Homo sapiens: one gene and its partners. The protein of the gene in region 1 interacts with the protein of each later gene in a pairwise test. Each region holds a gene or a part of one and is shown in the gene's direction. Other genes may lie near its edges.

What was found. Proteins that work in one complex are often made in the same cells at the same time.
Region 2: the proteins of F2RL1 (region 1) and CLPTM1 interact in a two-hybrid assay, tested with the Homo sapiens proteins (one large-scale study listed by BioGRID and IntAct).
Region 3: the proteins of F2RL1 (region 1) and SDHD interact in a two-hybrid assay, tested with the Homo sapiens proteins (one large-scale study listed by BioGRID and IntAct).
Region 4: the proteins of F2RL1 (region 1) and ATP2B1 interact in a two-hybrid assay, tested with the Homo sapiens proteins (one large-scale study listed by BioGRID and IntAct).

What each region holds. Positions count from the first base shown.
Region 1 is NC_000005.10:76,829,030-76,832,422, forward strand, and holds part of F2RL1 (proteinase-activated receptor 2 preproprotein), read left to right. Parts: intron 1-3,393. UniProt on the Homo sapiens protein: Receptor for trypsin and trypsin-like enzymes coupled to G proteins.
Region 2 is NC_000019.10:44,958,380-44,961,879, forward strand, and holds part of CLPTM1 (putative lipid scramblase CLPTM1), read left to right. Parts: intron 1-3,500. UniProt on the Homo sapiens protein: Involved in GABAergic but not glutamatergic transmission. Binds and traps GABAA receptors in the endoplasmic reticulum (ER).
Region 3 is NC_000011.10:112,093,084-112,096,294, forward strand, and holds the end of SDHD (succinate dehydrogenase [ubiquinone] cytochrome b small subunit, mitochondrial isoform a precursor), read left to right. Parts: coding exon of another isoform or gene 1-114; exon of another isoform or gene 115-126; intron 127-1,721; coding exon 1,722-1,887; 3' UTR 1,888-2,711; downstream 2,712-3,211. UniProt on the Homo sapiens protein: Membrane-anchoring subunit of succinate dehydrogenase (SDH) that is involved in complex II of the mitochondrial electron transport chain and is responsible for transferring electrons from succinate to ubiquinone (coenzyme Q).
Region 4 is NC_000012.12:89,698,839-89,702,338, reverse strand, and holds part of ATP2B1 (plasma membrane calcium-transporting ATPase 1), read left to right. Parts: intron 1-3,500. UniProt on the Homo sapiens protein: Catalyzes the hydrolysis of ATP coupled with the transport of calcium from the cytoplasm to the extracellular space thereby maintaining intracellular calcium homeostasis.

The sequences.
Region 1 (3,393 bases):
TGCTTGAACCTGGGAGACGGAGGTTGCAGTGAACCAAGATCGCACCACTGCACTCCAGCCTGGGCGACAGAGTAAGACTCCATCTCAAAAAAAAAAACAAGTTATTTTTATGGTTTGTTTGAATCAGGATTGAAACAAGGTACACACATTATATGACTGATATGTCTTTTAAATCTTCTACTCTATAAATTTCACCTCCACACCTTTTTTTTACCTTTGTTCTTCTTCTTCTTCTTTTTTTTTTTTTTGAAGAGATGGCATTGTGCTATGTTGCCCTGGCTGGTCTTGAACTCCTGGTCTCAATCAATCCTCCTGCTTTGGCCTCTCAAAGTGCTGGGTATTGAAGGCATGAGGCACTGTGCCTGGCCCTCTTTCTTATTTTTTGCCTTATAATTTATATTTTGTAAAAAACAGGTCCTTTATCCTGTAGCAGTTCCCAGAGTCTCAATTTTACTGACTACATTTGTGGTGTTGTTTAACACTTTGCCCCCTTCATTTCCATTAATTTGGTGTTGGATAATTTCCACAATAACTGCACCAGTTGCTCAGTCTATAACACTAATCAAGCACTGAATCCAACACCAAATTAATTTCCAGTATGTTACTTTCTAATTGTTACATACATTGTCATTCTAAGTTAAGTGGCCTGTGAAATCAGTGTTAAAGAATAATAACTGGCTTTTTATAATAATGGAATAGAATACAATAGAAAGTATCAGTGCACCCTATGTAATAAGAATAATTATTATTTTGTGAAACGTTTTTCCACCATGGATATGTGTATTGGGAACTGGGTTAGTATGTGGAATATGGTTCTTAGGGGTTATGGTCAAATATTTGAAGAACACTGTAATATGTAGGAATTTTTTTTAAATTTAAAAACAACATATGTTCTTTTTGAAGAATTATATAAAAAAAATAGAACCACTAGAAATAGGACTATCCTAAGCATATTAGTTTCTTGTGGCTACCATAGCAAATTGCCATAAACTGATGATGTAAAACAACACATTTATTCTGTCAGTTCTGGAGACCAGAAGTCTGAAATCAAGGAATTGGGGCCACAAGCCCTCCAAAAGCTCTAAGGGAGAGTCCATTCCTTGCCTTTTCCAGCTTGCAGTGGCTGCTGGCATTTCTTGGCATTCTTGGCCTGTTCCTTGATGTGACTCCAATCTCTGCCTCCATTCTCATGTCACTCACTCCTCTGGCTTCTCCTTTTCTGCGTGTTGCAGATCTCTTTCTGCTTTTCTCTCTGTTTTGTTGTTTGATACAGACTTTAACTCTGTCGCCCAGGCTGGAGTGCAGTGGCGCAATCTTGGCTCACTGCAACCTCCGCCTCCCAGGTTCAAGCAATTCTCCTGCCTCAGCCTCCCAAGTAGCTAGAACTACAGGCGCCTGCCACCACGCCCGGCTAATTTTTGTATTTTTAGTAGAGACAGGGTTTCACTATGTTGGCCAGGCTTGTCTTGAACTTCTGACCTCGTGATCCACCCACCTCAGCCTCCCAAAGTGCTGGGATTACAGGCGTGAGACACCACGCCAGGCCTCTGCCTTTATCTTAGAAACGACACTTGTCATTGGATTTAGGGCCCGCCTAGATAACCCAGGGAGATCTTCTTATCTTAGGATCCTTAATTCTATCTGCAAAGACATTTTTGCTAAATAATGTTCACAGAGTCTGGCGATTAGGACATAGACTTCTCTTTTGGGGGCACCACCTTTCAACCCACTACACTAAGTGAAAAGTGAAATATTGATCTCTACATCCCCCAACACTCCACCCAGGCTAGCATCCCAAATAGGGAAGCATTAAGATGTGAAAAATTCTGCGGAACATTAGTGTAAAGCTTCTAGTGGAAAAATGATGACCAAGCATAACATTATGAGATAAGAGCATGAGTAGGTTTAATATCCCCCTGGTATACGGCAGTGCAAGTATTGCCCTGTCTTCTCTGCTTGGTGAGGCCTACTTTTCCCCAGAATTAGAGTAAAATTATTCAGTATCCTTATATTGTCCTTACTTACTCCTGCAGGTTCATGAATACTTAGGGGCAGAATGTAGGGAGGACATGCCATTCATTTCTTTGTGGTTTTTAGGTCAACTTCATAATATAAGAGAGGGATAATAAGTTAGCTTGTCATGCTACATGCTTGAAAGTCTGTCATCAGTACAGCCACCTATCCAGGCCAGACGGTTTCCCTGCCAGTTGGCCTCCATGGGACATTCTCCAGGAAACCAGCACATGAGCAGGGAAAATCCCTGCCATTGTTGAGGCTATCGTTGTGGGTGAAAAGGGAATGTCCCTTGTGGTCCTGGAATCTCCCTGTGGCAAGCTCTGAATAGGGTATGATGAATTGAATAGGCCAGGAAGGATCCTGGCTCAGGGCTAGAGTGGGATAGAAGGCCATTATGAAGTGAGAAATTAGAAAACTGGTGTCAGGATGGGGATCGCTATTTTACACACTTGAGAATTTAGAAAGGAATTACTGCACATTCCTAAACTGATTTTTTTTTTTTTTTTTTGACTGAGGCTCGCTCTGTCACCCAGGCTGAAGTGCAGTGGCATGATCTTGGATCACTGCAACCTCCACTTCCGGGGTTCAAGCGATTCTTCTGCCTCAGCCTCCCAAGTAGCTGGGATTACAGGCGCCTGCGCCTGGCTAATTTTTGTATTTTTAACAGAGTCAGGGTTTCGCCATGTTAGCCAGGCTGGTCTGAAACTCCTGACCTCAGGTGATCCACCTGCCTTAGCCTCCCAAAGTGCTGAGATTACACGCATGAGCCACCATGCCCAGCCAAACCAAATTTTACTAATTGATAAATCAAAGGACTGTTGTTGGTCATGTGATAAGAATAGCTAGAGCTGGGCGTGATGTCTCACACCTGTAATTCCAGCACTTTGGGAGGCCAAGATGGGAGGATCACTTGAAGCCAGGAGTTCGAGACCAGCTTAGTCAACATAGCAAGACCCCATCTCTAAAAAAAAAAAAAATAATAAGTAAAATAAAAAGAATAGCTGGGGACTAATGAGTGTGGACAGTTTGTAAAAATAAATTGAAATATTGTTAGTCTTCTTTATATTCCTAGAAATCGATGCTCCACATGCATCCCACAACTCCTTACAACTCCCCGATACAAAAATACTCACTGTAAGAAAAAAACCCATAAAACCAAACTAAACCAGACAATAGAAATCCCAATAATCTCATTACACAAAGAAAAGCCCCTATAAGCATTTTGTGTAATCCTCTAATAGTACATTTCTGTTTTCATCTAAAGTACTTTCATTTGAGGCTGGGCTCAGTGGCTCACACTTGTATCTCACCACTTTGGGAGGCTGAGGCAGGAGAATCTTAAGGCCAGGAGTTTGAGAACAGCCTGGGCAACATAGT
Region 2 (3,500 bases), on another chromosome or scaffold:
GTGACTCTTTTTTTTTTTTTCTTTTTTCTGAGACGGAGTCTCGCTTTCTCACCACAATCTCGGCTCACTGCAACCTCCGTCTCCTGGGTTCAGGCAATTCTTCTACCTCAGCCTCTCAAGTAGCTGGGATTACAAGCACCTGCCACCACACCCAGCTAATTTTTGTATTTTTAGTAGAGACAGGGTTTCACCAGGTTGGCCAGGCTGGTCTTGAACTCCTGACCTCAGGTGATCTGCCCACCTCGGCCTCCCAAAGTGCTGGGATTTCAGGCGTGAGCCACCACGTCCAGCCTTGTGGTATAATTTAGATGGTATAACGTTCACCTGTTCTTAGGATAGAGTCCATTGGCTCCTGGTCCATTTATGCAGTTGTGTGGTGCAGCCATCACCACAGTCTGGTCTGAGAAAGCTTCTGTCCCCTCAAAAAGTTCCCTTTTACAGTCTCTGCTGCTCCCAATCCTAGGCAGCCACAGAGGTGCTATCTCTGTAATTTTCTAAAAATGTCTTAAACAAGGATCTAAACAACATCCAGTCTTTTGTGTCCAGCTTCTTTCATTGGGCATAATGGGTTTGAGGTTCATGTTGTTACATAGATCTGCAGTTGTTCATTTTTATTTTATTTTTTACAACCTAGGATCAGGGAAATTTGGCCTTTGGGGAAATCCTAAAGTACGTGCTCACAGTTGTTCCTTTTCACTGCTCAGTGGTAGTCTGCAGACATGACACAGTTTATTCTTTCAGTCCTTGAAGGATATTTGGATTGTTTTTAGTTTTTGTCTGTTGCCAATAATGCTGCTATGAACATTCATGTACAGGCTTTTCTGTGGCTGTATTTTGTTTCTTTTTTTTTTTTTCTAAGTAAGAGAGACAGGGTCTCCCTGTGTTGCTCAGGCTGGTCTCGAACTCCTGGGCTCAATGGATCCTCCTGCCTTGGCCTCCCAAAGTGCTAGGATTATAGGCATGAGCCACCACACCTGGCCACTGTTTGTTTTTGAGACAGAGTCATGCTCTGTCGCCTAGGCTGGAGTGCAGTGGTGTGATCCTGGTTCACTGTAGCCTCATTCTCCAAGGCTCAATTGATCCTCCCGTCTCAGCCTCCTGAGTAGCTGGGACCACAGGCATGCACTACCACACCTGGCTAATTTTTGTATTTTTATAGAGATGAGGTCTTGCTGTGTTGCCCAGGCTGGTCTTGAACTCCTGGGCTCAAGCAGTCTTCCTGCCTTGGCCTCCTGAAGTTCTGGGATTATAGGCGTGAGCCACTGCGCCTGGTCTGGCTTCATGTTTTCTGCCTCCTGGGTAGCCATTCAGGATGGGTTTGCTGGATTGTGTAGTAGGTGCACATATGACTTGTTCAATAACTGCCATATTTTCCGAAGTAGCTGTACTTTTACTTTCCCCCCTAGCAGCATACGAGGGTTCCTGTTTTTCCACATCCCTGCCAGCACTTGTGATTGTCTTTCTGCTGATAGCCATCCTAATAGGTGTGAAGTGACACCTCATTGTGGTTTTAACTTGCCTTTCCGTGGGAAGGTTCCCAGCCAGATTGCCCATCACTAACGGGTAAGCGAAGAGACCTGGGAGTCAGTCAGATGCAGCTTCAAATCCTGACCTGGCATCAAGTGTCCTTTCCTGACCCCAAATCAGCTCAGACCCATTGAAACCCATACTTGGACCCCTAAATTTCCCAATAGCTAGGCTGGCCTTGAGGAGGGGGCCTTGTGCCTGTCTGATTTCCCTTCCCCAGCCGACCCCCGCCCCATAGATCTCCTCATCAGAATGTGGCTTTCTCTGTCTCAGCCTAAGGGTCTCACCCAGACGACCCAGACGTCAAAGGGAGCTCCTCAGGGAGGCCTCTCTGACCACCCACTCCAAAGTGGATCCCTGTTCCCAACTCAGTTGCTGTCACTTCCCCCTGCTTGTTTTCCATGTACCATTTTTAATTATCCTGTTTACCGTTCTAGTGTGTTTCCTTCTAGATCCCCAGCTCTGGGTAAGCAGGGCCCAGATTTCTGTCTAAAATGTTCCAGTATTTTCACAACCTGGTCCACAGGTCAGAGAGGTGAAGTGATGTGCCCAAGGTGTCACAGCCAAGAACGGTGGGACCAGGACTATAGCTGAGGTCTGTTTGACCCTGGAGCCCCTCCAATGGTGTCCTGTGCTTTGGGAGATTACAGGAAAGAGCTCTTGCTGGTGAAGGGGACAGGAGGTGACAAGTGACACATTTAACACATGTAGCCCCTCTAACCATGCTCCTGGGACATTTGCTATCTGGTGGGTAAGGTGAATGGAGAAAACATTGCAGAGGAGTGGACTAGGGGCTGTGGAGGAGAGGGCCAGACACTGGAGCCTCAGAGGGAAGTGGGTTTGGGTGACCTGAGCGTCCGGGGTGAGTCCTTCAGGCAGCGGTGGCCACACAGGTGTTTATCACAGCCTTGCTCTGTGCCACTGGTGCTCTTGAGCTAACTGTGACTGTGATAGCCCTGGTCCTGCCTCTTGAAGGCTGATGGCTGAGGGGACAGCTGGGAGGAGGGGTGAATGAGAACAGGACTGGGGAGCTAGCAGGGTGCGTGAAGGGTGAGCAGAACATCCCCTTCCAAACCTGGCATTCAGAGAGTCTCTGATTGTGACCTTCTGTGTCTGAGTGAAGAGTCCTCCTCTGGGAAGCCGTGCCTGGCTCCCTTGCCTGCCCCCCTTCCCTTCTGTCATTCTGCTTCTGCGGTCCTTCCTGAGTGACCAGACAAGTGGCTTCACCTCTCTGAGCCTCCCTTTGCTCAGCAGCCGGATGGAGCTGGTCATAGTTTTGGCCTCAGGATTAGTGTGCTGTGTGCTGTCACAGACATGTCTTGTGGCCGTGGCTTATGGTAGCAGCTGATAGTCTGGTTGTGTTTTTCTGTGTCTGTCCCACCTGCTGGACCAGGGGCCCTTGGAGGGCAGGGTTGGCCACAGAGGGGGCCTCAGGAATGGTTTGCCCAGGGAAGGCTCTTTCAGCTAAGCCCCAGCCTTGAAGAATCTGGCACCTGCCATAAGACTCCTTCTGTTGTTGTCCCCAATAGCCACCTCCTTGCATCCTGGCTCCAGCCCCAGGGAACAGTGGACAGTCATCAGAATCAGACTGTGCCTCTAATCTTCTGTTTCTGCACCTGCTGCTTCTCTCACTTCCTCCTTTGTGCCACCAACTTGCTATGTTTTAGGTCTCAGCTTCAATGCCCCCTTCTCCAGGAAGTTGCCCCGAACCCTAGACTGGACCAGGTGCCTCTCAGGGCTCCTGCATTCCTGCCCCGTTCTGGACAGTCACTGTCTAGAGATGAATCTTTCTCCCCCACCGGGCTGTTAAACCCCAGGAGGACAGCAAAAGACTCTCTAGGTCACCACTGTCCCTAGGTCACAGAGGTGCTCTGCGAGTGTTTTCCTCCTAAAAGAAGAGGACCGCACCTTCCCAGGTGTTTTCACTGATTCATTCTCCAGTTATTGATAAGCACCCACTCTTTGCCCAGCCT
Region 3 (3,211 bases), on another chromosome or scaffold:
GAGTGCAATGGTGCGATCTTGGCTCGGCACGATCTCGGCTCAGCACGATCTCAGCTTACTGCAACCTCCGCCTTTCGGGTTCAAGCGATTCTCCTGCCTCAGCCTCCCAAGTAGCTGGCATTACAGGCATGTGCCACCACGCCTGGCTAATTTTGTATTTTTTGTAGAGATGGGGTTTCTCCTTGTTGGTCAGGCTGGTCTTGAACTCCCAACATCAGGTGATCCGCCCACTTCACCCACCCAAAGTGCTGGGATTACAGGTGTGAGCCACCACGCCCAGTGGTGTATGGGTTCTTTTATATGAAATGTCTAGAACAGGCAAAGCCATAGAGACAGAAAGTAAATTTGTAGTTGGGTAGTGGGCTAAGAGGTAGAGGGTTTCTTTTTGGGGTAATGAGAATGTTCTGGAATTAAATGATGATTGCACAACTCAATATACTAAAAACCAGTGGATTATATACTAAAAAGCGTGAATTTTTTCTGGCGTTTGACTTACATTGCAATAAAACTGTTATAAAAATAGTAAAATTAGGTCACTCCTAATCTCAGGCACTCCCTGCTTAAAATGTATCAGTGGTTTCCTATTATATTTCATATAAAATTCAGATTCCTTATCATGACCTTCAAGACCCTATGCAACCGACCCCTGCCTTCCTCTGATCTCTGCTTCACCCATGTGCTCCAGCCACACAAATCTTACTATTCATTAGAGATGCCACTTTGGTTTGGATGTTCTCATTCATGTCTTCCTTTCTAAAGTGTTTCTTCTCAGTACATATATATTTACTTTTTCCTTCTCATTCACTAGTATATTCCATAAGGGTAGGGATGCTGTCTCACTTACTATACTCCCAACATTTATGACAGATTCTGGCACATGATATCTACTTAATAAATTCTTTTTGAATTAATTAAAAATACTGTAGAGTTTTAGTTATTTTTAGTTATTGGGGTGAAAGGATCACTTGCAGCCAAGAGTTCAAGACCAGCCTGGGCATCATGGTGAGACCGCATCTTTAAAGAAATAAAAAACAGGCCAGGCGCAGTAGCTCACGCCTGTAGTCCCAACACTTTGGGAGGCTGAGGTGGGCGGATCACAAGGTCAGGAGTTCGAGACCAGCCTGGCCAATATGGTGAAACCCTGTCTCTACTAAAAATACAAAAATTAGCTGGGTGTGGTGGTGGGCGCCTGTAGTCCCAGCTACTTGGGAGGCTGGGGCAGGAGAATCACTTGAACCCGGGAGGCGGAGGTTGTAGTGAGCCGAGATCGTGCCACTGCACTCCAGCCTGGGCAAAAGAGCGAGACTCTGTCTCAATAAATAAATAAATAAATAAATAAATAGAAGGAAATAAAAAACAATTAGCCGGGCATGGAGGCATGCTCCTATAGTCCCAGCTACTTGGGAGGCTGAGGCAGGAGGATCACTTGAGCTCAGGAGTTCGAGGCTGTAGTGAGCTATGATCAGGCCACTGCACTCCAGCGTGGGCAACAGAGTAAGACTTTGTCTCTAAAGAAAAGTCACTAGAAATAGACTTACTGACATACACACGCAAAAGGCTATACAGAATCCCCTAAAGAAGCAAACAGTGACAGTGGAGTGGCAAATGGAGACATTGCATTTGAACTTGACAGATTGTTTTTTTGCAGCCAAGTTATCTGTATAGTCTTCTAATTTCACTGTGGTTTTTTATTGATGTTATGATTTTTTCTTTTTCTTTAGGGGCCTTGGACAAGTTGTTACTGACTATGTTCATGGGGATGCCTTGCAGAAAGCTGCCAAGGCAGGGCTTTTGGCACTTTCAGCTTTAACCTTTGCTGGGCTTTGCTATTTCAACTATCACGATGTGGGCATCTGCAAAGCTGTTGCCATGCTGTGGAAGCTCTGACCTTTTTGACTTCATACTTTGAAGAATTGATGTATGCCTCTTTGCCTCTGCTTTGTCATGCCATTAAGCTCACAATAAGGAAGAAATAACAGATAAGTCCATTGGTGGACAGCCTTCTTCTCTTAATCACAAGATTATTTTCAGAATTTAATCTTTGAGGAAAAGGTTTGAGAGGAATTATATCTAAGTTGTGAGACTGAGTTCTATATTCTGGTGAGTTAATGGGGTTGCCTCCCAGCTTCTTATAAGACTCACAGTATAACTAAACATGATATATCAGCTTTTGCCTTTCAATTTATCAATCTCTTAAAGAGAATCCAACTTTATTACGATTAGTATATGATCAAACTTCCATATTTGCCTTGGGAATAATGGACAAAGGGAAATACTCTTAATTCATGAATAAAAACTTTGCAGAAAATTAGACAGTGTTTAATTTTCGAAAACTTCCCTCTCTAGACAGTAGATACCACCTACTGATGGTTACATATACTAGGGAAATTTTAAAATTAGGAAATGCTGATAGCTCATATTATAAATTTCTAAATCCTAGGAAGAAACGCTTGGAGTGCTTCTGAATATACAGAAGTTCCATTTAAGGGCAAGTTTCCCTGTAGATGTATCAAAATACTACCAACTGTAAATTGAGATTTAATTCCCAAATGTATTCTACTTGTTCTAAAACAATCTGTCCACAAATATAAAACTATAAGTAATAAATTGTTATTTTCGCACAATGGGAATCTCTAATGTGAAAATGTATTCTATGAAAATAATTTTTTTAAATAAAATGTTATATAATAAAAGTGTCTTCTATGCTTTTATATATTAGCTATCAGTAGTTTTATTCATTAGAATTAGGTGTCCATTGCATCCACAGCATGAAAACAAAATTGGGTTTTTTTTTTTTTTTGAGACGGAGTCGCACTCTGTCACCCAGGTTGGAGTGCAGTGGCGTGATCTCGGAGCACTGCAAGCTCCGCCTCCCAGGTTCATGTCATTCTCCTGCCTCAGCCCCCCGAGTAACTGGGATTACAGGCACCCACCACCACGCCCAGCTAATATTTTGTATTTTCAGTGGACATGGGGTTTCACCGTGTTAGCAAGGATGGTCTCGAACTGCTGACCTCGTGATCCACCCATCTTGGCCTCCCAGAGTGCTGGGATTACAGGCATGAGCCACCCCGCCCAGCCAAAATTGAGTGTTTAAATTTTCTTCTGGGGCTTAGCAGTTAGGTAAATCAGACACAAAGTACTGGAAAACAAAAAGGACTTGTAATAGGCAGAAAAATACCAAGTGTATAAGTAATTTGGTATAAACAGA
Region 4 (3,500 bases), on another chromosome or scaffold:
TATTTTTCTCTTTATCAAAATACAACTTGACTCTGAAGGCCTTTTATAAAGTAGCTCAGTGTTTTCTAAATTGTGTTTTAGAATGCTGGTTCCAAAAAATATTAATAGGGATTTCCTGGGGGAAAGAGGCACAACCAAACTCCAGGATATGCTGGTTTATGCAGTTTGGAACTTCTCTGGTACTTCAAGGTGCTAATAAGGGCTGAATCTAAATGTGGCTAGTGTTTTGTCCTCTCATTTCACAAAACTCCCTTTAGTGGAACATCTCACCTTGTTAACTTTGTGTACCAGGATCACTGCTTTGCACAACTCCAGGGGATGCTGTTCACATACAACACAAAATGAATTGTGTTTCCTGGAGTTGAGAGCTGTGTTGCATACTGTAGTATTGCTGACTGTCCACTGTGTGACGGTCTTAGAGTCTGGTGGTCCCTCATCCTTTTGTTGTGAATGTGTATGTGTTTTTCCTCTCACCTGATAGGACCCTTAGGGGCCAGATGCTGTGCTTGATGCCTATAAGTCCTAGCACTTTGGGAGGCTGAGGCAGGAGGTTCGCTTGAGGCCAGGAGTTCGAGGCTGCCTGGGTGACACAGCAAAGAACCTGTTTACCAAACAAAAAAACCAAATTAACTGCCACATTGAAATTCAGAAGTGGAAAAGTCCTGCCTGTAGAGAAGCTAAATTCTACTGTCCTAGTAACATTCTGTGAAATGTATGTAGCTATCTTCCAGAAATAAAACATTGCCTTATGAACCCATCTGAGTAAGGTTAAAATTCCAAAGGTAAAAAGGTTTTAAAAATCTCCCAGAAAAATTTCCTTAACCTTCTCTGCTTTACTTTAACAGAAGCTACACAATGTCTAAATCCTAAACCAATATGCCAAAAAAAATAGTACCTGAACATTTGCTGGATAAAGTTCTATATATCGTGATATAGAACCCTATATCTTATCTCAGTTCTTTTATGTTATCTCCAAATGAATTACTAAGACAAAGGGATAATAAATGGGAAGTGTACAACCCGGAGGACTTCAGACCAGAAAATCAAAGAGAGATGATGGGAAAGGGTGGAGTAATGCTGAGTTTTGAAGAATGGGCACATTTAGACAGACCAAAGACTGAGCATCATATCATTGCTGCCGTTCCATGAACTGAGAGCAAACTGTTAGATCATGACCTGCTACAGAATCACTAGGCATCAGGAAGAAGAGTAGGTATATGGTCTGTATTAGAGTATAGCAATGGATTATTCTTCCAGCTGCCAAGAAGTCAAGAAGGAAAGCCTGTATTTGACTTTATCATTTCTATTGAATGTCTGAGTGATACATAGAGTAGTAATTTTAGACATTTAAGTAACTAAAGATTTATATAGCTTTAGTATGTAAGCTGTTATATTTAAAAATGCTTGAAAAAATAAGAGTTGTTCTCCAGAAATTATTCATTTTCCTATGATTAGCACAGCTGAGACCTTACAGGTGCACTGCTATTGAGTATTCTCCCAACCTTTTAAATTTTATAGGTCTAATTGTTGGTAAGGTATTGTGGAAGGAGTTCTAAGACTTGCTCCTGCTTTAATTGACGTTGCAATAATAATCATAATAAAATTGTTGGTCAAAGAGTAGCACAGGAGTGGTTTTGGTAGTGAAGAAAATAAAAAGAAATCTGAAGGTAGAGATGAATGGAATCAGCAAAAGTGAAATTGGTTAGATTAGTAAGTTGTTTTTCTACTGGGACACTCATGGATGATACTGACATATACTCCATTCTCCCTTGCTAATATCTAGATTTTTTTAGTACCTCTAATACTAAGAGATTTTTAATTTCTTTGCTATACTTCTGTCCTTTTCTTCTCTATTCATGCTCAAAAGAAAGTAAGTGCTATAACTACTCTTTTTTGTTTGCTTAAAAAATGACTCATGAACTTAAGGTACTTAAGTGTGGACACTCCTGACAACTAATACCATAGCGGAGAACTACTGAGTTAAAGGGTACCAGTGCAAATAGAGGGCTGAAAACAAGGAAGGTCAGTCAGTGAATGGGAAAGAAATATGACAAAGCCTAGGAAAGGGAGCTCCTCTAGCATCAAACTGTCTGCATGTCGAGTCTCAGAAAAACAAGGATTCGTCAGTCAACCCCTTTCTGCATGCACAGTGGATTTAGGGTAAAGTTTATGTTACCCTGTCTTTGGCCGAGCGCAGTGGCTCCTGCCTGTAATCCCAGCCCTTTGGGAGACTGAAGCAGGAGGATTGCTTGACCACAGGAGTCTGAGACCAGCCTGGGCAACATGACAAAACCTCATCTCTACTAAAAAAAAAAAAAAAAAAAAATTTAGCCAGGCATGGTGTCGTGTACCTGTAGTCCTAGCTACTTGGGAGGCTGAGGTAGGAGGATCGCTTGATTCTAGGAGGTAGAGGTTGCAGTGAACTGAGATTGTGCCACAGCACTACAGCCTGGGCGACAGAGGGAGACCGTCTCTGTCTCAAAAAATAGATGACCCTGCCTTTGAGCTTAAGCACTACTGTTTTTATGTACATAATTTAATGCTGGAACTTGATCACCTCCGGCCCTCCTGCTGACAGCATTTCTTTTGCTAGAAATACCCACCTTTCTCAGAGCCTGTGTCTCCTTTGGTTTTGGTTTTTACTCCATGATATGTTAAGGACTCACCAGATTTAAATGTGAAATTTATCTTCACCACTAAAAAGCCCACTTGTCTTGGATAAATCACTTGGTTTCTTTAACTCCTCAAAAAGTACAAAGTCAGGGGGTTTTGATTTTTCTCTCTTGAAAATTTGGCTTTTAACAAAATTTGTATAGCAAAAACAGGTTACCCGCTCCCCCCAAACTTTCAACCATTTATTTCTTTATTCTGTTAGGTTTGCCTTCCAATTTTGTCTTTTAACTACTTTGTCATCATTTTGACGTTTCGTCTGTGATACACCGTGTTTGATTTATGAAGATAAATACATTTATTGAAAAGCTAAATTATCTAAGATTTCAGTTAAACAAGTGGCATATTACTAGCATTTAACTCTGCCTCTTGCCAAACATATACTAAAATGAGAATAAGGGAATTCTTTTTTAAAAAAGCCATAAATCCACAAGGGAGAAGAGAAACCCACACCAAAATTTTAGAAGGCGTTGACTTAGTAGACTTAAAAAGCTGATCTCTAAGTAATAGAAAAGCCCAGAAACAAGTCAGTTTATAGAATTCCCTGAGAGCTCAAAGCTGGGAAAACATGGGACCCATGGTGAAGAGGGGACAGGGGGGCAAAACGGGAGAACTGGTTGAAATTTTAGGAATTTGATACCCAGATATCTTTCCCTCTGTCTGTACTCTGTGATCTCTTTTCCTTCATCCTTGCAGAAGGCTGGAAGCTTGCTTTCTGGAGAAGGCTATGCACACTGGGAATACAGTTGAAAACCAGGGTACCACACTCAAAACCGAGTGTTTACCTATTTATGTTAAGATCACCAGTCTTCTTCCCTCACCCAGCTTTC